3 separate regions of the Homo sapiens genome follow, and regions 1 and 2 are each linked to region 3. The links come from fine-mapping of genetic effects on gene expression. A gene starts in region 3. Each other region holds a variant in brackets. All regions are shown on one strand. Distances are from middle to middle. Region 1 overlaps QDPR (quinoid dihydropteridine reductase). Region 2 has its middle 30 kb from the start of LAP3. Region 3 holds the start of QDPR (quinoid dihydropteridine reductase).

Evidence for each region. PIP is the estimated chance that this variant, and not a neighbour inherited with it, causes the effect. A credible set is the group of variants that fine-mapping cannot tell apart.
Region 1: its variant is the best candidate, but not a certain one, in a credible set for the expression of QDPR in whole blood (INTERVAL, PIP 0.59).
Region 2: its variant is the best candidate, but not a certain one, in a credible set for the expression of QDPR in skin (TwinsUK, PIP 0.75).

The regions. Positions count from the first base shown.
Region 1 is chr4:17,487,061-17,492,451 of GRCh38, reverse strand. It overlaps QDPR (quinoid dihydropteridine reductase), which reads left to right. Exons shown (of 7, transcript NM_000320.3): 5 at 112-220; 6 at 1,707-1,790; 7 at 5,216-5,391. The coding sequence ends at 5,321. Among named protein-coding and RNA genes, the nearest start is that of QDPR, 22 kb to the left of the region's middle. The variant T/C (reference allele first, on the strand shown) is at 2,705.
Region 2 is chr4:17,542,603-17,552,702 of GRCh38, reverse strand. It overlaps the pseudogene NACAP5. Among named protein-coding and RNA genes, the nearest start is that of LAP3, 30 kb to the left of the region's middle. RefSeq lists enhancers at 3,040-3,159, 7,335-7,931. The variant C/T (reference allele first, on the strand shown) is at 4,546.
Region 3 is chr4:17,506,442-17,517,462 of GRCh38, reverse strand. It overlaps QDPR (quinoid dihydropteridine reductase), which reads left to right and starts at 5,373. Exons shown (of 7, transcript NM_000320.3): 1 at 5,373-5,513; 2 at 8,100-8,192. The coding sequence starts at 5,409. CLRN2 (clarin 2) reads right to left here and starts at 2,298. Exons shown (of 3, transcript NM_001079827.2): 1 at 1,944-2,298. The coding sequence starts at 2,196. RefSeq lists a silencer at 5,165-5,744.

The DNA.
Region 1 (5,391 bases), 22 kb after region 3:
GCAGCTATTTATAAAGTTTTTAGGGAATAGAGATCTCAAGAGAAGATTGCATGTCCTTGCTGTCCCCCTGGCCGCCAGTGGTCACTGAGCCATCTTCTCCCCATTTCCCAGGTATGATCGGGTACGGCATGGCCAAGGGTGCTGTTCACCAGCTCTGCCAGAGCCTGGCTGGGAAGAACAGCGGCATGCCGCCCGGGGCAGCCGCCATCGCTGTGCTCCCGTAAGTGCTTGGGGTTCCCTGGCTGCTGCCCACCTCTGCCCCACTGCTGCAGGTGACCGTTTGTCTGACTGTAGCTTTCCACAGGCGACCTGGGTGTGCTCTCACCTCTGGTTCTGAAACACACCAAAGTCTCTTAAGATACTTATTATCTTAATCTGTTTGAATTGCTCTAACAAAATACCTTAGACTGGGTGATTTATAAACAGCAGAAATGTATTGCTCACAGTTCTGGAGGCTGGGAAGTCCAAGATGAAGGCACCAGCAGATTTGGTGCCTGGCGAGGGCTCATTCCTCATAGATGGCGCCTTCTATATGTGCTCACACGGTGGAAGGGGCAAATGGGCTCCCTCCAGCTTCCTTTATAAGCATGCTAATCCCCTCCTAAAGGCCCCCACTTGTCTCCTGCAGACCCCACCTCTTAATACTATTATGTTGCAGTTTGTGTTTTGTATGTGAGTTTGAGGGGGATACATTCAGACCATAGCAATACTTCCAGTTTTGGGTTCTCCTGGGCTGTCCAGAATGTTTGATTGGCTGGTTGGATGGGTCTGTCTTTTTTGCCTCTTTTTTTCCTCTCCCTTTCTTTTCTCCCTTCATTTCTTCCTTTAAAATTAGACTACACATTTTACTTTTTTATATGTAGTTCTGTCTTTCAAGTCATTATATGGGGTATGTATGTGTGAGAGAGAGAGAATATGGGAAACTGTTGGAGGTGTTTCTGTTGGTCATCGGGGGACTGTCCCCCATCAGCTGTCCCAGGCAGAGGCAGCTGCTTTGGAGGGAGGCTACTCCTTCTCGCTGGAAGGCTTCCAGCACCAGCAGGCTTGCCTCTTGCCTGTGGTCCTATAAAGGGATGCTGAGACTGTAGGGACTGCACTGATTGACTTTCTGGTTCCCTTTTAGTTGTGAGGTTCTGTGATTCTGTGACATGATTCCCACAGCTGTTTTGAATGATTCGAATGATTCCTGAGGCCTTGATGTTCTTGGGAGATTCATGCATATCTGAATTCTATATTATTCTGCCAAAAATCTTAAGGTTTTGTGGAAAATAGCCACATATTTAAAATTTTAGTATTTTAGTATTCTCATATTTAAAGGCATATAACTATCTTAAATCCTTAGAAATGAGTGTGCTGCATGTTAGGGAGTGAATAAAGACACAGCAACAAAGCAGTTTAATTCAGTGAAGACTCTTTTTTAAAAAGGCAAAATGTGGCTCCTTCTGTTTTGTTCTTATCTGCCTAAGTGGTGAGCCACAGCGCACCTTATTGAATTATGCTCAGATCTGGCCTTTGCTAGCGGGGACAGCTTCCTGCTCTCTCTCTGCTTATCTTTCTGTCTGATCTTTCCATGTAAATAGCACCCTCAGTGCCAGAGGCTCTAGGTTGTCCTGCTGTATGTTTGCGTTTTCCTGGCCAAGGGGGACTGGGCACCTGTTGTTAGAAAGGAGCGACATGAATGACGTGCTTATCTGTGTCCATTGCAGGGTTACCCTGGATACCCCGATGAACAGGAAATCAATGCCTGAGGCTGACTTCAGCTCCTGGACACCCTTAGAATTCCTAGTTGAGTGAGTATTACAGACATGTCCATGACTGAGCAGCTTCCAGCCCCTATTCTCTGCCTGCTGTGGTCCAGAGGACAAGTCTGTGTTCCCTGAGATCGTCAATCCGGGTGGTCTTGGGAGGTCTCTGGGACTCTGAGGATGCATTGCACATCAGACGGAATCTCAGAGTAGCTGGACTTGGAGACAGGCAGCACAGTGGCAGAATGGGTAGTGCCGACATGAATCCTGGCTCGCTCCCTCACCACCGGCCATGCTGAGCACATTATTGACCTGCTGAGGCCTCAGTTTCCCCACCTGTATCATGAGGTCCATCATGCTTGTTAGGATTAAACGTGATAGTGTGCGGCAAGCACTCAACACAGTGTCTGGCCATAACAAGTGCTCAGTGATCCCCAGCTGCAGTTTGTGTCCTTACTGCTGTGATGAGGAGACTCCATGGGGGAGGGGGACACCACGTAGATGGCCTGGGGGCACATATCTGAATCTGTGTCAAGCCACAGACCCACAGAAAGTGCCCTTTAATTTCCGAAATCCTTTTTGCCCATTTGTGAATATGGGTGGCATTTGAACGCTCATGGGACAGAGAGCTGAATTCCTCTTTTGTGTTTGTTTAGGTATCAGTTCCTCAAGCCCCTCTAGTTAGTAAGCATGTGTTCATCGAGCACCCACTATGGGCCAGGTGCTGCCCTCGGCTCTGGGGTCACGGTGAGGACAAAGATGGGATCCCTGCCCACAGGGAGCAGGGGTGCCGAGAGGGTCAAGGTGACAGCCTGACCCAGTAGTGCCTCTGTGTAAACTGCTTTGACGACTGTTTATAAGAGATGTTTGTGAAGTTAGCAGTGTGCTTCTGGCCTGATGTCACAATCTCATTTAAATTAAATCGGGAGAAATTTGGGACTTGCGTTTTATGTTTGAAA[T/C]GTGTACTTACAGAACACTTTTTATGTCCCAGTCACCATTCTAAGCACTTCATAACTCTTATTTAATGCTCATAGCAAACTCTGAGGGAGGAGCTGTCATTTTTATTTAAGGCTTAGAGACTTGGAGGGATGGCAGGGGCTAAGTCACTCGCCTAAGGTCACACAGCACAGCCGGGATCTGACACAAGTGGTGTGGCTGCAGAACCTATGGTCTTAACTGGTGTGCTGACAGTTATTTCTGTCTATGCCAGGAATCATGCTTCATGCTTGATTTGCAGGAAAAAAATTGAAGTTGTAGAGGAAATCAAGCTTTGAATTGTGTTTGTGTTTGAATTTCTTTTTAAAGGCCGACACTCCCACCACACTTGAGATACTGATCTAAGACCTACTCTAGATGGAACATCTGGGATCTTGTGTCTGAACTCGTGCTGAGCCACAGACCCACAGAGGACGGGCTGTCACAGGCCCCCTTTTGTTCTAGAGATCACATCCACCCATTTGTGGTATTTGAAAACTCTCAGAAAAGCTGGCATAAAGTTTGCTTTGAGATGTCTGTGAGCACATCCTTCCTCTACCATCCCTGGTTAGAATGGCGTTCTCACTCACCTATCCACGCTGCAGATGAGGGTGAAGAAGTAAAACCATTTAAAACATGCATCGCAGCAAACCAACATGGCACATGCATACCTGTGTAGCAAACCTGCACGCTGTGCACATGTAGCCTAGATCTTAAAGTATAAAAAAACAAAACAACAAAAAAACATGTGTAACCAACACACAAAACCCTACACAACCAAACGGCACTGGTCTCTTTCAGAGCCTTCCCTCACCAAGCCCTACCCTGTCCCCAGAGATGAGGCCATGACATGACAGTACTTTAGAGAGTTTTAGCAACGCTTTGTTTTTTGAGCCCATGTGCTCATATGAGCTTGTTCAAACCCCAGAGTAGGGGCCTGAATGACTGGACCTTTACACATCAGCGCTGGCCCAGAAGGTTACAGATTGGCACTGGGAGTCTCCCAGGAAGGAAATGCTGAGCACTTTTTAGTTAATGAAGGTCCGAAGTCTCAGCTGGTGAATTGTCAAAATGGATGATGTACTCAAATGTAAATGTTTTGTGTTAAAGAATTATCATCTACTTCTTGTTTCTTGTGAATTTCTTTTGCCCTTTTTCATTCCTGTCTTCTTAGAGGGTCTTTTTGACTGCTGCAAGTGGGGTCAGTTGCTCCTCTCCTCAGATTTGTGAAAGGCCCTGTTACTGTATTTAACATTTTATTGTAATAGTCTGTTTTTTTCTATCTCTTTTTCCATTGTTTGGTGCAGCTGTGGGTACTCTATAAATGTTTGATTAAAAAAATGCCAAATAAATGAATTGCATCTGTTTCTCTCATAAATTTATGAGAAGGTAATATAGCAAAGTATTGTGCATGTGTCTCTCTCTTTGAATGAACTAATTAAAATCTTTAAAAACAATTTTTTTTTTTTTTGAGACAGGGTCTCACTGGGTCACCCAGGCTGGAGTGCAGTGTCACGATCATGGCTTACCCTAGCCTTGATCTCCGGGGCTCAAGCAATCATCCCACCACAGCCTCCTGAGTAGCTGGGACTACAGGCATGTGCCATGCCCAGCTATTTTTTGTATTTTTTTAGAGGTAGGGTTTCACCCAGTTGCCCAGGCTGGTCTCAAAAACTCCTGGGCTCAAGTGATCCACCTGCCTCAGCCTCCCAAATTGCTGAGATTACAGGTGTGAGCCACCACGCCTGGCCAAATTAGAATCTTTTAAAATCACAAAAGAATTCCAACAATGTAGAAAAATACCAAAATGAAAGTTAAACTTATGCCAAATCCTGCCACTCAGAGATTAGAATGAGTACACCACTGAACTCACTGGGGGCCTGGGTATGTGTCCATCATGCCTACTGGCTTTTATTAATTTTTTATTATTTTTTGGAGATGGAATCTTGCCATTGTGTCCAGGCTGGCCTCAAACACCTGGGCTCAAGCGATCCGCCCGCCTTGGCATCTCAAAGTGCTGGGATCATAGGGGTGAGCCATAATGCCTGACCTTTAGTGGCTTTTATTTATTTATTTATTTATTATTTTTTGTGAGACGGAGTCTCATTGTGATGCCCAGGCTGGAGTGCAATGGTGCAACCTCGGCTTACCTCTGCTTCCCGGGTGCAAGTGATTCTACTTCCTCAGCCTCCTGAGTAGCTAGGATTACAGGCACGTGCTACCACGGCCAATTTTTGTATTTTTAGTAGAGATGGGGTTTCATCATATTGGCCAGGCTGGTCTCGAACTCCTGACCTCAAGCGATCTGCCCGCCTCGGCCTCCCAAAGTGCTGGGATCACAGGTGTGAGCCATGGCGCCCAGCCCTTAGTGGCTTTTAAACAGTCGCTGCTGTGCCACCCCTTCCCCCCACCCCACAAGCCGTCACTGTGAAGGTCAGCATGTGCCCAGATTTTTGCTTTGAGAATATAAAAAAAACTTTTATTTTCTGTTCCAGAACTTTCCATGACTGGATCACAGGGAAAAACCGACCGAGCTCAGGAAGCCTAATCCAGGTGGTAACCACAGAAGGAAGGACGGAACTCACCCCAGCATATTTTTAGGCCTCATCTCAGTGCCTATGAGGGGCCTGCCAGAAAAGTCACTAACCTGTCTCAGTGTGGCCTTGTCCAG
Region 2 (10,100 bases), 36 kb before region 3:
CACAGCCCCAGGTGGAGACCGGGTCTGGAACAGAAGCTGACAGTGATAAATCAGTACCAGAGCTCGAGGAACAGGATTCCACAGAGATACCACACAAGCAGCCCAGCTGGCAGCAGCAGCTGAAATCAATGAGTGTCAATCAGTAAAGCAAAACAGAGTTAGAGTGAAAAGAAGGCACGTAAGGCTATGTCCAAACTCGGTCTTCCGTAGATAACAGGGGTTACTACAGTCACTACTGGAAATCTAAGAATATCTTCTTTGTCATCACAAAACCAGATGTCTACAAGAATCCTGCTTCGGATACCTATGTGTGTGTTTTTGGGGAAGCCAAGATCAAGGATTTATCTTAACAAGCATGGGTAGCACCTGCTAAGACACAGAGTGAGCTGTCTCAAACATTCAAGAAAACACACAGACTCCAACTATACAAGACGAGACTGGAGAGGAAAAGGTTGATGATACAGGTGTGGAAGTTAAGGACGTAGAATTGGTCATGTCACAAGCAAATGTATTGAGAGCAAAGGAAGTCCGAGCCTTGAAGAACAAGAGTAATCATATTGTAACTGCTATTACAGAATTAACAATGTGACCACCTGAAAATGACTGTTTTTGTGTGTTTCAAAAGAATAACTGCAACTTGGTTTGAAATTTGTACCTGTTTCTATCATAAATAAAATTATGGCTTCTTCTTGGAAAAATATTAGAATAAAATAAACATTCAAATTATGCAAAGTCCCACAGTCACTGCACTCCCAGCCCAGGCGATTATTAATGGCCAACCACTTGCCTTTTAAAGAATTTCTTGGCATTCTTCTGCTTCCACAATAAAGGAGACTAATCATCTTTTCTCTTATTTTCACCTCTGTCAGGTCTGGGATCTTCCTTTAATACTACCCTGGGCCAAGAGCAGTGGCTCACACCTGTAATCCCAGCATTTTGGGAAATAGAGGCAGTAGTATCACTTGAGCCCAGGACTTGGAGACCAGCCTGGATAACATAGTGAGACTCCTGTCTCTACAAAAACTACAAAAATTAGCCGAGTGTGGTGGCACAAGCCCATAGTTGAGGCTGCAGTGAGCGGCGGTGGCACCACTGTACTCCAGCCTGGGTGACAGAGTGAGATTCTGTCTCAAAATTAAAAAGAGAATAATCTGGTGTCCCTGAAATGTAAGTGACTGTCCTGAGAAATCCTGATGCCTTTTTTTATTTTTAAACTGCAGAGGTCCTTTGTGAATGAGAACTCTTGTTTTCTTTTCTTTTCTTTCTTTCTCTCTTTTTTTTTTTTTTTTTTTTTTTTTTGAGATGGAGTCTTGCCCTGTCACCATGGTGGAGTGCAGTGGTGTGATCTTGGCTCACTGCAACCTCCAACTCTCTGGTTCAAGCAATTCTCCTGCCTCAGCCTCCCGAGTAGCTGTGATTACAGGCATGTGCCACCACGCCCGGCTAATTTTTGTGTTTTTAGTAGAGACGGGGTTTCACTATGTTGGCCAGGATAGTTTCCATCTCCTGACCTCGTGATCTGCCCACCTTGGCCTCCCAAAGTGCTGGGATTATAGGTGTGAGCCACTGCGCCTGGACTGTTTTCTTGTTTAGCAGTTTGCTCATCTACATATACTTTCAGAGACAAACTGTTCTCAGTATTGAGGATTACAATAAACTCCTTTCTCTAATAAAAGAACACTGACTGAAAAAAAACCCAAACGTATCATTACAGTTATCAATACGTCAAATGTATGCTTGCCACGATTTTTCATATGACAAAGTAATTTTTCTTTTTTGGTAAAATAATTTAATTCTAATTTGGTCTTCACTATTGGGGTTGAATTTAAGTTCTTAACCATTCTGGTCCTTATATTTTCTTTTTTTTTGTTTTTACATCCCCATGAACACCAAGGAAGCTCTGTATATTTTCTGTGGCAACACCTGCAAACTTGTTTACCTCAGCAGTTTGCAAATGCCAACTCTAAACCATCAACTGGGTAACTCCAAACACACACACCACACACACACTCCTCTCTCGCTCGCTCTCTCTCTCTTTCTGGAGTCTAGCTTCCTTCTTTCCTCTCCTCCCTCTCCAAAGAGATTCTGATTTAGTTTTAAAACGCTCACCAGGTAATTCTGACCATCAGCCAGGTTTGGAAACTATTGAGATAATTCCTCACATCTGTGTCGGTCTATCTACCCATCCTGCTTTCCTTATTCCAGAAGAGATTTAAGGTGTTGACTTAATTAAATACAGTAATTTGGGAAACCATTTAAGAAAATAAAATATAAACAGTGGTTTCATCTTTATCTTCTTTCTCATAATTTTGTATTTTTTTAAGTTTTCTGATATATATTATTACAGTGATAATCTTTAAAAAGAATGAAACTTTATAGATATAAAATTGAGTTTGGGCAGGGTGTGGTGGCTCCCGCTTCTAATCCCAGCATTTTGAGAGGCCAAAGAAGGCGGATCACTTTAGCTCAGGAGCTCAAGACCAGCCTGTACAACATGGCAAAACCCCATCTCTACAAAAAATACAAAAATTAGTCAGGTGTGGTGGCGCACGCCTGCAGTCCCAGAGACTCGAGAGGCTAAGGTGGGAGGATTGCTTGAGCCCGGGAAGTGGAGGTTGCAGTGAACTGAGATCGCACCACTGCATTCCACCCTGGGTGAGAAGTGAGACCCTGTCTCACAAAAAAAAAAAAAAAAAAAAAAAAAAAAAAAGGCCAGTCACTTGTTAGAGTTGCTGGGCCTATGTATTATACTATTTTATCCTTGATGAGTTATTAATCAAGTATAGTAATTTGATTTTTACAACCCTGCGCTGACACAGAGGACCAGAGAGAAAACCTTTATGGCTGTGACGTTACAGGTTACTGGTAGGATGTAAGACCTCTAAAATTCTTTTTTTTTTGACAGAGTCTCGCTCTGTCGCCCAGGCTGGAGTGTAGTGGCGAGATCTCGGCGCACTGCAAGCTCCGCCTCCCGGGTTCACGCCATTCTCCTGCCTCAGCCTCCCGAGTAGCTGGGACTACAGGCGCCCGCCATCACGCCCGGCTAATTTTTTGTATTTTTGATACAGACGGGGTTTCACCGTGTTAGCCAGGATGGTCTCGATCTCCTGACCTCGTGATCCGCCCGCCTCGGCCTCCCAAAGTGCTGGGATTACAGGCGTGAGCCACTGCGCCCAGTCAAGACCTCTAAAGTTCTAACAGTTTTTGTTTCCTAGGGTCCTGCAACACCCCGCTGAGAAATAACCCTCGTTATACTTAGCAACGTTATCTAAAATATTAAAAGGTATTTCCTTACTCAATTGGAACTTGAAACTGGAAGCATAGTGGAATCACAGAGTGACTCTGAGCTGAAAGAATCATTCAAGATTCCTTGATCCAACCGGCAGCCCCACGCCCGCTGAGACATGATGAGTTTATGGTCAATCGATTGCTTCCCCCTAGTGGCAAACGGTGGTCATACCACTTTCATTTTTAGACATGTTTAACCTTAGAATCATAGTTTAGAAATTATTTTGCACCATGGATTGCTTTGATATGATTATTAAAACATATACGGTGTGATAGTATTATATAGTATCCATGGTAAAACTATTAGCTAATGCATTTAACAATCACAGCAACAATACCTAAGGCAGTCAAAGCTCATTACTTCTCTAGTTTCTTTCTGATTCACTTATGAAACAATTTATCCCTGATTTATAATATTCCTCCTAAGTCTTAAAGAAAATGCACATAGTTGTGTAGTTATAAATAAGCTCTGTTCAGAGCAGACCACATTATAAGCCAGTATGATTAAGATTCCAGAAATGGCAAATTGCCACCAAATAATTATAGCCTTTGGTAACAAACAGAACAAAACAAAAAAGAAAACAATGACACTTTTAACTACCAGATCCAGGATTTGATAAAATGATCATGCCCAGAACGAGCTTTGTCATTTTGTGGCAAATTGTTCTTAAAGCCTCAACTGAACTCAACAAAGCTTTAAAATCATCTTTTGATTTTAAAAGTGGCGTCCCAGAAAAGCTTATATATAATTATATATATATATATATTTTTTTTTTTTTAATGCTGCCTTATTCAGTTTTCAGGAAATTTTTACATGTATGGTATTATTATCATTTGCCCCTTCAACTACTCTCCTTGGTAGACAGGAAAGGTATTAGTATACCTTTTTTTTTTTGAGATGGAGTGCAGTCACACAATCTCGGCTCACTGCAACCTCCGCCTCCTGGGTTCACATGACTCTCCTGCCTCAGCTTCCCCACTAGCTGGGATTATAGGCATGCACCACCACCCCTGGCTAGTTTTTATATTTTTACTGGAGATGGGGTTTCCCCATGTTGACCAGGCTGGCCTCAAACTCCTGCCCTCAAGTGATCCACCCATCTCGGCCTCCCAAAGTGTTGGTATTACAAGCGTGAGCCACCACGCCCCGCCAATATACCTTTTTTACAGTTGAAGAAACTGAGGCTCAGAGATATCACAGAGCAATAGGGTCCCAGAAATGGGACAAAAATCATGGTTGTTTCACTCTTCTTGAAA[C/T]GCTTCAGACTTTTACATCCAACTGTCTGCTACGCATTTTTACTGGGATGTCTCATCCACAGGCCCTGAGATCCACCTCATCCCTGGATCCCGTTACAGGTAGTGACACTGCCTTCTACTCAGTCGTCAAACAAGAGGTCTGGGAGACCTCCCCGATCCTTTCTTCTCTATCCTCTCTTGCAACTGATGTCTTGCTGATTTTCCTGACCCTCCTCCACTTCGTATTGTACCCTTGTATTAGAGTGCTAGGGCTGCCACAGACTGGGTGGCTTCAACAACAGAAATTTATTTTCTCATAATTTTGGAGCTAGAAGTCCAAGATCAAAATGTTAGAAAGGTTGGTTTCTTCTGAGGACTCTCTCCTTGGCTTGTAGATGGCTGTTGTGTCAGTCTATTTTACGTTGCTATTAAAGAATACCTGAGGCTGGGTAATTTATAAATAAAAGAGGTTTATTTTCGCTCACAATTCTGCAGACAGAATGCTGCAGAATCTTATACTATGCTTCTGTATAAGAAGCATAGTAGGACAGGGGTGGTGGCTCACACCTGTAATCCCAGCACTTTGGGAGGCCAAGATGGGTGGATCACTTGAGGTCCAGAATTCCAGACCAGCCTGGTCAATGTGGGGAAACTACATCTCTACTAAAAATACAAAAATTAGCTGAGTGTGGTGGCACACACCTGTGATCCCAGCTACTTGGGAGGCTGAGGCAGGAGAATCACTTGAACCTTGGAGGCAGAGGCTGCAGTTAGCTGAGATTGTGCCACTGCATTCCAGCCTGGGCAACAGCACCAGATTCCATCTCAAAAAAAAAAGAAAAAGAAAAAGAAAAAAAAAGCATAGTGCTTGCCTCTGCTTCTGGTGAGGCCTCAGAAAGCTTGTTTTTTGTTTGTTTGTTTGTTTGTTTATGTGAGACAGAGTCTTGCTCTGTCGCTAGGCTGGAGTGCAGTGGCGTGATCTCAGCTCACTGCAACCTCTGCCTCCCGGGTTCAAGCGATTCCCCTGCCTCAGCCTCCCGGGTAGCTGGGATTACAGGCATGCATCACTACACCTGGCTAATTTTTTGTATTTTAGTAAAGACAGGGTTTCACCATGTTAGCCAAGATGGTCTCGATCTCCTGATCTCGTGATCCTCCCACCTTGGCCTCCCAAAGTGCTGGGATTACAGGCTTGAGTCAACGCGCCCGACCTGGAAGTTTTTACTCGTGGTGGAAGGCAGAGTGGGAGCAGGCCTGTCACATGGTGAGAGAGAAAGCAAGGGGGGAGGAGGAGCTGCCAGGCTCTCTTAAACAACTAGCTCTCCTGTGAACTAATAGAGCGAGAATTCACTTGTTACCACGGGGATGGCCCAAGCTATTCTTGAGAGATCTACTCTCATGAGGGATCTGCCCTGTGGTAGCGAGCCTGTAATCCCAGCTGCTGGGGAGGCTGAGGCATGGGAATCTCTTGAACCCGGGAGGCGGAGCTTGCAGTGAGCCGAGAACACGCCACCGCACTCCAGCCTGGGCAACAGAGCGAGACTCCGTCTCACAAAATAAATAAAAGCCCTGTCTCCAAATATGTCACATTGTGAGGTACCCGGGGTCAAGACTTCAACATAAGTTGGGGGGGCGGTGCAGGGCATAACCCTGCCCATGACAGCCCTGGTTCATTTCTGAACTGGTTGAAGGCTGCCTCCCTCTGCCCTTGACGCCGCACCACCTTCCTGCCTGGATCCTCTGCTCCCATGTGCTGTCCACATGCTGCTCGAGGACTCCTTCTAATGCGCCACCTATCCTGCTTCTCAGCCCTCAGTGAAGCCCAGTTCCTTCACAGGACGCAGGAATCCTTCTCGAACCTGGCCCTACCTTTCTCGCCTGCCTGTGTTCCTTCCATACTTCTTGTCTTGCGCTTGTCCCAGTGGGTGCTGAACTGCTGTGACCTGGCTGTGCTGTTTCCTGCCTCGATACCTCTGCTTCTATTTATGCCCTCACCCTGAGTTTTTTGCCTTTGCCTGCCTACCCCTTATTCATTCTTCAAAATTGACAGTGAGAGGGAGACTTTTGTGGTTCCTTGAATTCCATCCCAGCTCTGGCTTCTGGACCAGAGAGACTTGCGTGCACGCACAGAACCCAGCGCAGGCAGACGGCATGTGGACAGATCACAGGTGAGCAGATCGCAGTAGGCATTACCTCGGGAACAGTCTGTTAAGGACATGCTGATCACTGCACCAAAGAACTGTCCCCGTACCCCAGGGGGTGTCAGCTGTCTAGGCCAGGTGGCCTGTAGGAGCCACCTCCCTTCATCAGGCAGGCAAAGCTACTGTCTGGTTTTATTATGTCTCTCTTAATACAGAGGCAATTCAATTTCTTCCCACTTTTGGCTGGCTATATAGAGATACATATATATTTTATATGTTTATATACATTTAACAGATTCATACCTGTGAGGCTGATACAAATTTATGAAGATATTAATTTATACCTACCCCCTGACTTTCCCCATTCAAGCTAGCTGCAGGCCTCACCTTAGGGGAAATTTGCGGCAATGTGGAAAACAGAAGAGCTATCGCTGACTTTGCAGTAAGTACTCTGGGTTATCTAGATTGTGATTCATACCCAGTACAGTGGACCCAGGGTTCCATCGAACTTGCTTTCACAGTTTAGCCAACTCCAACCTCATTGCTGTAGCTACTTTAACCCCAGCTAAACTTTAAAATAATAGCACATAAGCACTTCCATACTAGCAAATTTACTGTAAACTTACCCTCGCCCCAGCATGTAATTACCTTTTTTTTTTTGGGACAGAGTTTTGTTCTTGTTGCCTAGGCTGGAATGTAATGGCGTCATCTCGGCTCACCGCAACCTCCTCCCAGGTTCAAGCTATTCTCCTGCCTCAGCCTACCGAGTAGCTGGGATTACAGGCATGTGCCACCATGCCCGACTAATTTTGTATTTTTAGTTTCTCCATGTTGGTCAGGCAGGTCTCTAACTCCCGACCTCAGGTGATCCACCCACCTTGGCCTCCCAAAGTGCTGGGATCACAGGTGTGAGCCACCCCGCCGGGCCATGTAATTACTATTAATGGTTTTGTTTGTAAACCCCACTGCTTCCTGATCCAGGCTGTGTCAGGATCAGCTCTGGCCATCCTCCAACCTCATGTTATCATAAAATACAATGTTTGTGTTTCTAGTTCCTGGTCTGTAAACTTCCCAAACAATGTCATCTTCATCTTTGTATCCCCAGGACCTGGCATTGTGCCAAACACATAGTAATGTTCCCAAAATAATCTGTTGAAAACAAAATGAAAATAATTGGATCTATGGGATGACAGGGCAGGGACAATGAAGTAACTATTTGGAATAATTTTCAGTAAGAAGCTTTTGTTAATGGAGGTGGAGAGTGGAGGTAAATGTCCAGAGGAAACAAAATTAGCCATGGGCTGATAATTATTGAAGCTGGATAATAGTTACCTAGAACTGCAATACTGTAGTTTCTATGCATATATATATATATATAAATTAGGCATATTAAATACATATTCACCAATAAAAAGTAAAAAGTGAAAACAAACCCACGTCTGTTTACTAAGAAATGAGTGTGAGAAGGAAGTGCTAGTTCTATAATGAAGCAGGCTGTCATTTCTGCTTGTTTACTTTGCATTTCAGCACAGCGGCCCTTTGTGAGGAACAATGACAATGACTTCCACCTCTTCCGGGGAGAAGCCCAGATGAGGAGGTCAGTTGCTGTGGCCTGTCAGCCCTAGAGGTGATGTCACCGTCTCCCGAGGACAAAACCTTCATTTAGCTGCAAGAGGGAACAGTTGAGTAGTAAAGTGCTTATTGTTGTGGGTCATCCTTTGGCTCAGATTTTGTAAACAGATTCATCTTGAATGACTGCATGCATAGGGATTACAGGAACGACTGCATTGTCTGAAATGACAAGCCTGGAAATTTCCACTGTAGGGGGATGTCATGGGATTCACTACTGGTATAGACATTAAAACTTACAAAGAAGAAAATTCTGTAGAAATAAAGACATGCTTAATATATTTATTTGAAGAAAGCAGAAGGAAAATAAGTCTGATGTGTATCGCATGGGAAGAGGGACATTATGACGGCATAAAAAAGTTAAAATGGGCCAGGCGCAGTGGTTCATGCCTGTAATCCCAGCACTTTGGGAGTCCGAGGCGGGCGGATCACGAGGGCAGGAGATCGAGACCATCCTGGCTAACACAGTGAAACTCCATCTCTACTAAAAATACAAAAAAAAAAAAAAATTAGCCAGGCGTGGTGGCAGGTGCCTGTAGTCCCAGCTACTTGGGAGGCTGAGGCAGGAGAATGGCGTGAACCCAGGAGGCAGAGCTTGCAGTGAGCCGAGATAGCACCACTGCACTCCAGCCTGGGCAACATAGCAAGACTCCATCTCAAAAAAAACAAAAGTTAAAATGTTGAGATATTATGCCACAACATGGATGAACCTTGAAAACACTAGGCTAAGTAAAAGAAACCAGTCATTGGTTATACAATAACCATATCTGGTATAATTTCACTTCTATGAAATATCTAGCACAGGCAAATTCATAGAGACAAAAAGTAGATTAGTGGTTGCCTAGGGCTGCATGGGGAAGAGAATGAAGAGTGATTACCAATGGGCAGAAGGTTTCTTTTTTGGGTAATAAAAATGTTCTAAAAACGTGGTGACATTGCACAATTCTGTAAATATACTGAAAACTACTTGAGTTGTACATTTTAAATAGCTGAAATTTATGCTGTAAAAATTCTAGCTCAATAAAGCTGTCAAAAATGCTGGGGGTATTGGGAAAAGAGGATTCTTTTTTAAAAATTGTCTTATTGCATCAATTTATTACATTTTCAATAAACAATACAAAATGTATTTTCACATAGTAAAAATCCAGCAAGGATACATCACATTCACCAATGATAATAAATATTTATTTTTGAAAACCCAGACAGTGTATTTCTGATAAATCTTAAAATTGAAGATATTCAAAATTCAGTGCAATCAAATTTCCATTGTCTGTTTGACAATTAAACACCAGTGTGGAGTGCATTTGGTTTTCTAGCAGGTACTGCAGCAGCTGCTGATGGCCTCTTCTCTTTTTTCTCTGTTTCTTTGTCAAGGATGAAGTTGGCAAGAGTTCGCATGCTAGCCAGTGCTCCAGGGTGAGGGAGCAGTGGTCCCTAATCTCAAATGGGAGTTAAATTGGTCTTCCCAAATCACTACCATGGCCCAGTTGTTATTTTAATGGTGTTTTCCTCATGGTTTTGTGTGGCATGGTAGCAAAATGTTATTGAGTTGCCTTCATTCTTCTGTTATCTCTAACCACATATCCAGCTTCCTGAGTTTCTCTTTTTCATTTATAAAATAGGAACGATGACAGTACCTGACTTAAAACTCTACCATGTTAAAAAACAACAACAACAAAACGGTAGCTCTCTCAGGTTGATTCCAAGGCTGGGATGGGGAAAGTACTAAATGAGCCTAGACTCTTGCCATGCCATAGGCGAGGAAGTGCTCAGATAATGTTGTGGGCATGTCAAAAGAACAGGAGC
Region 3 (11,021 bases):
GCTGTTTAATCTTCTCACCCCATTCAAGTTTCAACGATTTACCTGTTGGGGTTCAGAAACCAACACCCCTAAAATATGAAGCTTTGTGAAGAAGTCTCAAGGTCTCTCTGGCCTCCCCTCTCCCTCGTGTCTCTCCATTCTTTGTCTGTCTCATAAGCACAGGATGAGGTTGTTCTCTGACATTCCCTTACCTGCCTACATCCAGACCTACCAAAGAAAAAGACCTCTGGTCCCTTCCCTGAGTGTTCATTAATTGTACCCATATCACAGGAAGAAAGACTAAAGTCTGTTAACACAGCTGGACAGACTTTTGTCACAAACCAATGTCTGCTCTGTGGGCTCAACAGACTTTGTCCCAGCTCACTGTATGTTCTTTAAGCCCATTGAATTTCCCTAAAAATAATTTACTAGTCCCCTAAAATCATCCACACTTCCCCATCTCTCTTTCCCCTAAGATGAAGAGGATACAACCACCTGTACCCCATTGAGATAGCGGACAATCACTCTGTGATTTTTCCCCTATGCATGCTAATAAATGTGTAAGCCATTTTCCCTATTAATCTGCCTTTTGTCAGTAGATTGTTTAGAGAACCTTCAGAGTGCAAAGGGGAAGTTTTCTTGACCCCTAAAGTCCCGAAGACATCCTTTATAGCAAAGCATCTAGTTCAGAATCGAGTAGTCCATGTAGTTGTCATGGTTAGCTTTTAGCATTTCTTTTTTTTATTTGTTTATGTGTGTGTGTTTTCAAGTTTTATGTTATAATTTTGATGGAGCTATTTGTTCAATATCCAGGGTCTAATCTAATTGCTAGGTAAATATAAATATGCCCAGACATATTGATCTTGAATATACATAACAAATGTAAATTTTTGTGTGTTTAAATGATGACAATTTGTATTATATTTGTCAACGGTTCCAGCTTTTTGTCCTTATAAATTTAATACGACATTTACCTTGGCCAGATTTCTATAAACTACTACAATACTGAAATATAGAAATCAAGGAATGAATACAATTCTGTATCACCCTACATTGGCATGGTATTGATTAATTACGGTTTTGTGCAGACACTTTTCACCAGTGATCTCATCGATTCAAAAGGCTTGCAGAATATTGCCTGTTTTGTTTTTTCCTTTCCAGAAGCCCGTTCCTAAGTCCAGCTTGGATTCCTGTTTGTGCAGACTGCTCTGCTTACATCCTGGGCAGCTCTGATGCTACACTGAATGCCAGCCAAAGTCGGTGCCCGCTCACGTTCACAGAGAACAGGCAAGTGCCTTGCTTGAGGTCTCCCCACCAGTAAACTTTCCAGTAGGGGTTTCAGCCAGGGTAGTCTGATTCCAGAACCCAAGCACAGTGCCCCTTTGCATTTTCTCAGACTATGAAGCTTTTACAAAAGTAGATGTGGAAAGGGTCATCATGCTTCCCAAAGGTTCAGTTCTGCAGGCAGCCTCCACCCACTTGTTGTGGTCATGTGGCATGGGTCTGGAGTCCGGCTCTACTGTTTCCTGGCTGGGTGACCTCAGGTAAGTTATGTAACCTCTCCAAGCCTCAGTGTACTCCTCTGGAAAATGGGAACATTAACAATTCCTTCTGTATAACTTTGTTGTAAGGCTTTAAGGAGACAAGTGGCGTGAGGTGCTTACAATGTCTGACACGTGTAAACTCTCAATATTTTAATAGTCATAATTAATAGAGGTAAACTGCAAAAATGCACAAATCCTTATTTCTAATGTTTCTATACATCTCTACAGAAAAAGAAAAGGAAGCAAGGAAGGAAGGAAAGATCTTTTTGATGTGGATCCAGAACCCTTGGCTCACTGTGGACTTTGACATTATGCCTGACGTTGAGGCAGCAGCCAAATTCCACAATGAGACATAAGCACTCTTACACATTAACAAAAATGAGTGCCTAGAATCAGCTTTCATGCTCCCAATATACTCACTCGTGAATTGGGATTGGCGGCCCCCAAGCCCACACTGCCGCACTTTACACCCTCGGAAGAGCCCGTAGTAAATGTCCCCAATGAACTTGACCAGCTCTCTGTCTGTGGCGTTGACCAGATCCACTCCAGTCTGACAAAGGATTTTCCCACTCAGCCAGTGGGGCACTACCAGGGCAACGATGATCAGGATGAAGGAGGAGAAGCTGAGTAAAGACGCCAGCCCATACCACGCCTTTTTGAACCATCCAGGCATGCTAGTGGGTGCAGGTCATCCCCAAGGTCTCCGAGCAGCAGCGAGGGTCATTGACATCTTTCAGATACTCGGCAATGCTCTGCTCCAAGGTCAGCTCTTCCAAACACTCTGTTTCAAGGTTGTAGGTCCATCCTCTCGTCCTCCTTCAGCGCAAGCTTGCACAGTCCATGCTTCCTACAACCACATCCAGAAGCCTCTACAGAGACAATCTTCACCTGACTATGTAGCGGAGTGTGTTACTGAAGGAAGTAACCTTATATCTCCTCCTAGACTAATGTTTCAGCAGACTGTTTAACTGTTCCTCGTTTCAAGTATTTAAATAGCCCTGGTGTGGACCTCGTAATGATAAAGGAGTTAGTAATAAGCAAAATCAGGTAGCTCTGAAGATTAAGAGACGCAAACCAATCTCAAAAAATGCATGTGTTAGAAGGAAAACAAAAACAGAATGATTAGCACTTGAATATTGCCAACAATGCGCAGTATCAAATGTCGATCTCGCTGATGCATGGGTGCCCTGGCATTTCTTTCTCTGAAATGTCACTGCTGTCAGAATCTTTAGGACTGTTATTAATACCATCAAATGACCCCGGTTCTTGGGGCTTTAATATTGAAATGTGTAAATAGGGCCTTATGAATTTCTCACTGTGTGAATCTGCTGGGGGTAAACTGTGACTAGAATTACTTTGTGGCTGTTGGGGTAGCCTGGAATCCAACACTTAACATTGCTCTCACCCGTCCCTCCTTCTACGTTATCTGAAATGGGAGAGAAAAGTGTTTTTCTAGTGTATTAGCAAATAGTAGCCACACTGCTGGGGTATTCATCTCTTCTAATAGTGGAAGATCTAGGCTTTCCTTTTAATCTGTAGATACTAGGAATGAAATATTCTTTCCTTTCTATCTTATACTGTGGACTTTGACATTTTGACTTTTACCTTATTCCTGAATATCAACTTAACATCATGTGAGACTGGCAACAGTCACTCTATCCATATCTCTGGGGAGCAAAGTTGGGCAAAAGTGGAGCAGTAAAATTTCTTAGTTGGTCACAGAAGCCTGAAGGGGGGTTCAGGAAGTTGCACTGTTAACCAATAGGGGTCCCAGGAATCTCACTTGGAGAGTGTCAAGGAAGCAGAGGGACACATTAATGGAAATGTCAGTTTCCTTCCTCGCAACTGGGGCTCACTTCAGTGGCCACTCCACAATGAAAATAAAAATGAGAATTTCTGAGCCTGGGCAATGTAGTGAGACCTTATCTCTACAAAAAATAAAAAAAAAAAATAGTTGGGCCTGATGGCGTGTATTTGTAGTCCCAGCTACTGGAGGCTGAGGCTGGAAGACTGCTCCAGCCCAGGAGCTCAAGGCTGTAGTGAGCTATGATCATGCCACTCTGAGTAACAGAGTGAGATCCTGTCTCTTACTATATATACAGATGAGTGGCACTTTACCATGTACAAAATGCAAAATGCTTTGACCATATGCTTGCTCACCTCTGATGCTCCAGCAACCCTTTAAGGTAAACAGGAGATGCACGATTTCAGCCATTTCTCTCATGAAAAACTGGATGTCAGTGCTGGGGCTGAAATTCAGGTCTTTGAATTACAACAGCTCATCTTCATCCCAGTGACTTTGAAACAGCAAATGTTTTTCTGGTAAAAAATAACAGAATACATATAAAAGGCTCAGAAGACTGCTTGGCACATTAAGTGATCAATAATGTTAGTTCACGTTCTTATTTTAACATTAAGCATGCTTTGACAAGTCAGGACTTGCGTAAATATCATTGAGTCATATTTCTGCCGTCAGTGAGGGACCTGTGTCAACTTTTGGTGTTTTGAGGGTTAAGCAATTGTTTTCAGAAAAACTCTAAGGGAAACACTTGATTCCCAACAAGCCTTTGTCTTGCTGAACAAAGGTGTGGTTAAGTGGAACTCTAGCTATTGAAGACCTGTGTTCAAATTCCCACTCTTCCAGACAAGTGTCTGTGACTCTCATGCCTCAGCTTTCTAATCTGCATAGGATTATCGTGTGGAGTAAAGTGAAATAGCACAGGCAGATCACTTAGCGCAGTGCCTTGGATATAAGGAGCACTAAATAGATGGTGCTCTCCTCTCCATCCAGCCTCCTAGCAGTTCTATTTCTGATAATGAAGCTTCTGACAACAAAATGTGCTGCTGGCTGCATCCTCTTCTCTAGTGACATATTTCTGCATGCTTTACCTGGCACAAGTTTACTGAACAAACATCTGTGTCTGCTGTGTACAAGGTTATATGTGGATGGGAAGTGACACAAAGATGTATGTAATACAGGGTTCTGCTATCAAGAAGGTTATGAGAGTGTTAGAGCTCTGGTTCTCTATCAGTGATGAATTTGCCCCTAGGAGACAACTGTTAAATCTGGAGATATTTTTGATTCTTATGAGTGAGGGGTAGGGGTTTGCTATTGATTTCTAGTATATGCAGGCCAGGGATGCTGTAAATATCCTACAGTACCCAGGGCAGCACCTGTCACAAATAATTATCTGGCCCAAAATGTCAGTAGTGCTGTAGATGAGAGGCTCTGTGTTAAAGATACAGGCCATGGGCAGAAATAACTAATATACAAGGGAGAAAATGCCAGGATCTGTGTCTGGCGATGGGTGGCATATAGTAAAAGGGCCATTTGGATTAATGGGTATAAATTTACGGTTAGATAGAAGAAATAAGACCTAGTGTGGTTTGTCTCGTCTCGGCGGTGGACTTTCAGCTCCTTGAGCGGAGCGACCTCTTCTGTTTTTTTGGCAGGTGGGAATACTTAAATCTCTATTTTGATGCACAATTAAAAATAAAAAATTGCCAAAACAGTGGTCGAAAATTGTACTATACTATATTTTACATGCTTACACTTCACAAATTAATGCTCGTAAAACACCCGCTCTCCACCCTCCTCGCCCTTAGCCCGGCTCGCTGCACGCCCCGAGGCCCAGCACTTGCTGGCGGGTGGGAGGAGGGGCTTCGCCGATGTCCCCGTCCCAGGGGCAGGGCCTGGCCGAAGTTACAGTCCCTCCGGGTGGCGGGGCGCCCCGAGCGTGGCAGCGCGCTAGGCGGCAGCAGCGGGCGCGGAGCGGGGCGCGGCCGCCGCGCGTTCCCTCTTGGCGGGGTTGGCCGGCCGGGGCGGGGCGCGGCGCTCCGGCTCGAGGCATTCGGAGCTGCGGGAGCCGGGCTGGCAGGAGCAGGATGGCGGCGGCGGCGGCTGCAGGCGAGGCGCGCCGGGTGCTGGTGTACGGCGGCAGGGGCGCTCTGGGTTCTCGATGCGTGCAGGCTTTTCGGGCCCGCAACTGGGTAATGCTGCGGGCTGGGGCTGCTGGGTCTCCGCGGGGGTGGCCGGGGGCTTTCGTGTGGAACCCGGCGGGGGGCAGTCTAGAGGAAGGTGGGGGCCCCTGTGCACCCCCTGACTCGTGTTGCTTGCACGTGCGCGCACAGGTCTACGCGTCTATTCCTGTTTCCGAGTGCGTGCGCACGCCAGTCCCAGGGCGCTGGGCCTTTGCTGTGCAAGGAGGTGCTCCGTGGGCCTCCGCCAGACCCAAAAAGTCCGGCGTGACTCGGGAGAGAATTCCAAAGGGGAGGAACGGGAGCAGGGGTGAGAGGACGGAGAGAGAGTGTAGAAGGAAGGCTCTAGAATGAGACAGCCCAGTCCCGGTTACTAGTCATGAGACCGCGTATTGATTACCTAACGCCGTAGGACCTCGGTTTCCCCATTTGTACAACGGAGATTCTGACAGTGAGAGTTGGGACGATTAGATGAGATAATTGGTGTCGTTGCACATAAATTACCTGACGCCTGGTAAAAACTGTTTAAATGCTGTCTATTAATGTTACTATTACTACCCACCCCTGTTCTTTTAGCCCCATTGGATCTGACAGTTTGAAGGCTCAGCACGGAAAAACGCTGACGGCTTCTTTGCTCTGCAAAGACTATTTCAACTACTTTGCATAGTCAGGTGTCAATTTCCAGGAGGCGGCAAGTCGGAGCAGAGCTGATACATGGCCAAAGACCCTTGACCTCAGCCGCTCAGCAGGCCTCAGCAATTTCCCGGTGGAGACACTGCCAGCGGCAGCGTTCTGGGAGCTTAGTTAGCAGCAGCAGCACAGCAGCCTGGGCAAGAGTTCCCCTGGGACCAGAAAAAGGCTTTCAGGATTTTCTTTAAAAAAAAACTATCTAATTTTTATAGATGAAGGGGGCAAAAGTACAGTTTAGTTACATGGATATGTTGTGTAGTGGTGAAGTCTGGGCTTTTAGTGTAACCATCACCCAAATAGTGTACATTTACCAAGGTTTTCTTGTTGCTCAGAATCTGGTACAGGAATATGCTTCTGAAGAATTCAGTCACACCACTCCCTTCCTGCCACCCATCTGCTCAGTGCTTGGGGACACTGATGAGGGCGCTTTCCCAGGTCTTCAGAGATGCATGGTGGTGACAGAGGCAGCACTTCTGCCAAGGGCCAGGCACTGTGTTCCCAGTACCAGAGTTCCCATAGACTCTTAATGCCCCCAATATCTTTAAGGCAGTAGATCCTGTTAGCGTCATGTGTTAGAGGGTGAAGGCTGTGCTTTCTCCTGGTGGTGGCACTTTGGTTTACCTTGGTCTTGGCAGAATCTGGAGAGCTGATTTACCTCTGGCTCTTGGTCTTTCCCCTCCGAGCTTCTTCCTGCCATCTTAGGGAGGGCTAGGATGATGGAGACTTTTCATTGTTTCAGTATCCCCCATGGGATAACAAGTTAATTAATAATATAACAAATGTTGATGAATAGATGCTGTGTTTACAGCTTAAGGTAGAGATAATTATCTCTGGGGACTTCAGACCAAGAGACCCTGAGTAAGGACTGAACATCCCCTGTGCCAGGAGCTTTAGCATCTTCCATTTCATTTAATTCTTACACTGACCCTGTTAATCATCAACAAACAACCTCTTTTGTTGGGAACCTCTGCCCGGCATCGGAGTGAGAAAGCCACTCTGGCAGAGCTGGGATTCAAACCTGATCTGTCTGATTTCCAATCCTAAAGTCCATCCCTCTCTGCTGCAGGACAGGGATCCTTTGTGAGCTGAATCTGGTCTGCCACCTGTTTTTGTACAGCCCAAGAGTTAAGAATAGTTTTACATTTTCAGGTGGTTGAAAAGAAAATCAAATGAAGAATTATATTTTGTTGTATATGAAAATTAATGAAATTCACATTTCAGCTCTGAAGATTTATTGGAACACAGCTGCACTTATTTTTTCCCCCTATTTATTGCTGTGTTCTGTTACAATTGCAGATTTGAGTAACAACAGATACCATATGGCCAGCAAAGCCTAAGGTAATTGTGATCTGGCCCTTTACAGAAAATTTGCTGGCCCTTGATGTCTCTAGAAGTGCAGGGTTTGTGTTTTAGAGGTGAATGTGGAGGCGGAGTAGAGTGTTTGGAGGTAGGAGGGCCTGGGATGGAGCCCAATATAGGGTGTGTTTTCATTGAAGCCTCTTACCTGTCTCCACTCTGCTCCTTTATTTTTCTTTCTTTTTCTTTTTCTTTTATTTAAATGGAGATAAGGCCTCCTTCTGTTGCCTAGCCCGGAGTACAGTGGTGCGATCATAGCTCACTGAGCTCAAGTGATCCTCTCGCCTCAACCTCCCGGGTAGCTGGGGCTACAGGCATGTGCCACCACACCTGACTAATTTTAAAATTTTTTTGTAGGGACTGGGTCTTGCTATGTTGCCCAGGCTGGTCTCAAACTCTTGGCCTCAAGAGATCCTCCCACATTGGCTCCCAAAGTGCTGGCATTACAGACGTGAACCACTACACCTGGCCAACTCCCCTCATTTCTATGTGTGACTCTTTCATGGAATAACAACTCACTGCCTCTTAACCAAAGCTGTTTTCTCCTTCCAGTGGGTTGCCAGCGTTGATGTGGTGGAGAATGAAGAGGCCAGCGCTAGCATCATTGTTAAAATGACAGACTCGTTCACTGAGCAGGCTGACCAGGTAGTTTCAAAAAGGCCCCCAAACATTGTGAGGGGAACCCTGGGGAGAGGTGACCACTGGCTGTATGTTCTTCCTTTGGCTGTATGTTCTTCCTTTTATTTCTTTTTTTCCCCGAGACGGAGTCTTGCTCTGTCGCCCAGGCTGGAGTGCAGTGGCATGATCTCCGTTCACTGCAACCTTTGCCTCCTGGGTTGAAGCAATTCTCCTGCCTCAGCCTCCTGAGTAGCTGGGATTACAGGTGCCTGCCACCACCCCCAGCTAATTTTTTGTATTTTCAGTAGAGACGGGGTTTCACCATGTTGGCCAGGCTGATCTTGAACTCCTGACCTTGTGATCCGCCCGCCTTAGCCTCCCAAAGTGCTCGGATTACAGGCATGAGCCACCGCGCCTGGCCTGTTCTTCCTTTTTTTTAAAGCTGTTGTTTCTCTAACTAGGAAAGCCATTTGTGTTCATTGAGGAAAATTTGGAAAAAGTGAAAAATGATACAAAGATAAATTATATAATCATTTTGAGTTAGTTCACTGTTAACATTTTGGCCTATTGTCTTTTTCTATGCATATTGTATGTTACTCCTTTTACAAGTTTAGGTAATTTTGTATTTTATAGTTTATGGTAAGCTTTGTTTTTTTTTTTTTTTATACTTAAATAATTCTCCAGATTACTGAAAAAACCTCTTTGTAGATGTGTGATATTCCATTTTATGGAATGGCCACAATTTATTTAGTTTGTTTATTGTACATTTGAGTTTTTTGCAGGATTTTTGTTTTACTATTGTCAAGAATGTTGTGATGAACGTCTTTGTCTACATATCTGATTATTATTGTTTTTTGTTTTAAGAGAGTCTTGCTCTACTGTTGACACTGGAGTGCAGTGGCACAATCTCAGCTCACTGCCACCTCTGCCTCCCGGATTCAAACAATTCTTGTGCCTCAGTCTCCTGAGTAGCTGGGATTACAGGCATGCACCCCAATGCCCAGCTAACTTTTTTGTATTTTTAGTAGAGACAGGTTTTTGCCATGTTGGCCAGGCTGGTCTCGAACTTCTGACCTCAAGTTATCCACCCACCTTGGCCTCCCAAAGTAATGGGATTATAGGAATGAGCCACTGCACCTGGCCCACATATCTGATTATTTAGGATACATTCTAAAAAGTGGAGTTACCCAGTTCACAGCAGGAACACTAACAAAACAGGTTATTTTTAATTATAAAATGATATGCATATTATAAAACAAAAGTCCAACAAAACTACGTAAATATAGAAATAAACTGTGAAACTGTCCCTTTTCTCCCCATCATAGTATCATTTCCCAGAAGGATGCACTATTAACAGTTTGATGGATATCCTGGTATAAATATCTTAGATGCTCTAGGCTGGGTGCAGTGGCTGACACCTGTAATCCCAGCACTTTGGAAGGCTGAGATGGGCGGATCACGAGGTCAGGAGATCAAGACCATCCTGGCCAACATGGTGAAACCCCGTCTCTACTAAAAATACAAAAATTAGCTGAGCGTGGTGGTGCACGCCTGTAGTCCCAGCTACTCGGGAGGCTGAGGCAGGAGAATCACTTGAACCTGGGAGGCAGAGGTTGCAGTGAGCCAAGATTGTGCCACTGCACTCCATCCTGGGTGACAGAGTGAGACTCTGTCTCAAAACAAAAAAAAAAAAAAGAAAGAAAAATCTTTGATGCTCTTAAGCAGTGCTTAACTTTCTTGAGAAGCCCTTCTGGTGAGCTGCCTGGATGACTTTTGAGTCAGGTTCTCACTGTGTTGCCCAGGCTGGACTGGAACTCCTGGGCTCAAAGGATCCTTCTGCTTCATTCTCCCGAATAGCTGGGACTTCCTGAGTAGCCACTGTGCGCAGCTGACTCTGTGTTTAATGGTTTTTAGTGCTGTAGCCCACATTCCCAAGGATAACTTCACATCACTATGTGAAGCGCCTTATTTTCCCAACCACTCAGTGTGGCAGGCAGGCAGGCCATTTTACAGCTGTGAAGACAAGTTTGCGCGACTAAGTGACAAGGCCAACAAGCTACTCAGTGGTGGAGTCAGGATCATAGGTCTCCAGATACGAACTTTAATAAGTTCAGGTGCCACTTGGTCTGTACGTGGGTCTGCTTTTCATTTAGTTGCACTTTCCTTGGTAATCTCAATACTGATGTTTTATGATCCTTATCTGGTTTTTATAACAAATTTTTAAAATTTTAGAAGTGATGCATGTATGATATAGAAAATACAAATAAGCAAAAAGAAAAGGGAAATCATTTATAGTTCTACCATATAGTTAATCATTTATTTATATTTCCTTCCAGTCTGTCTCTCCAAAATATACATGTATAAATCTATACATTTTGAACATAAAACTGTGAGCACAACTCTGCTACTCATTTGCTCTTTCTAAAGTGTCAGTTTGACATAGATTGGAATGTAAAAGCCAGATGACTTATTTTAGCACTTCATTTTTGTTGTTCTTATTTTTCTCACTGTGGTCTCAATGTTCCCATACCTAAGTCATACAGATTGACCTTAGTGAATTTAATAGTGAAAGTTGACATGGCATCATTGTTAGTTGCCAGGCACCATTCTCAGTGCTTTATTTTCATTAACACGTGTAGTCTTCATTACATCCCCAAACAAAGCTTCTAATTTTATCCTCCTTTTAAATGGGGGTAACTGAGGCACAGAAAGGCCCTGGTATTTGTCCAAGGTCAAACAGATAAAAGGTTGCATAGCCACTATTTGGACATGGGCAGTGGGGGTCTGACGGCTGTTCTCTTAACTGCTATGCTAAGCTGCCTTAAAGCAAAATAGTTTCATGTGAATAAAGTAATA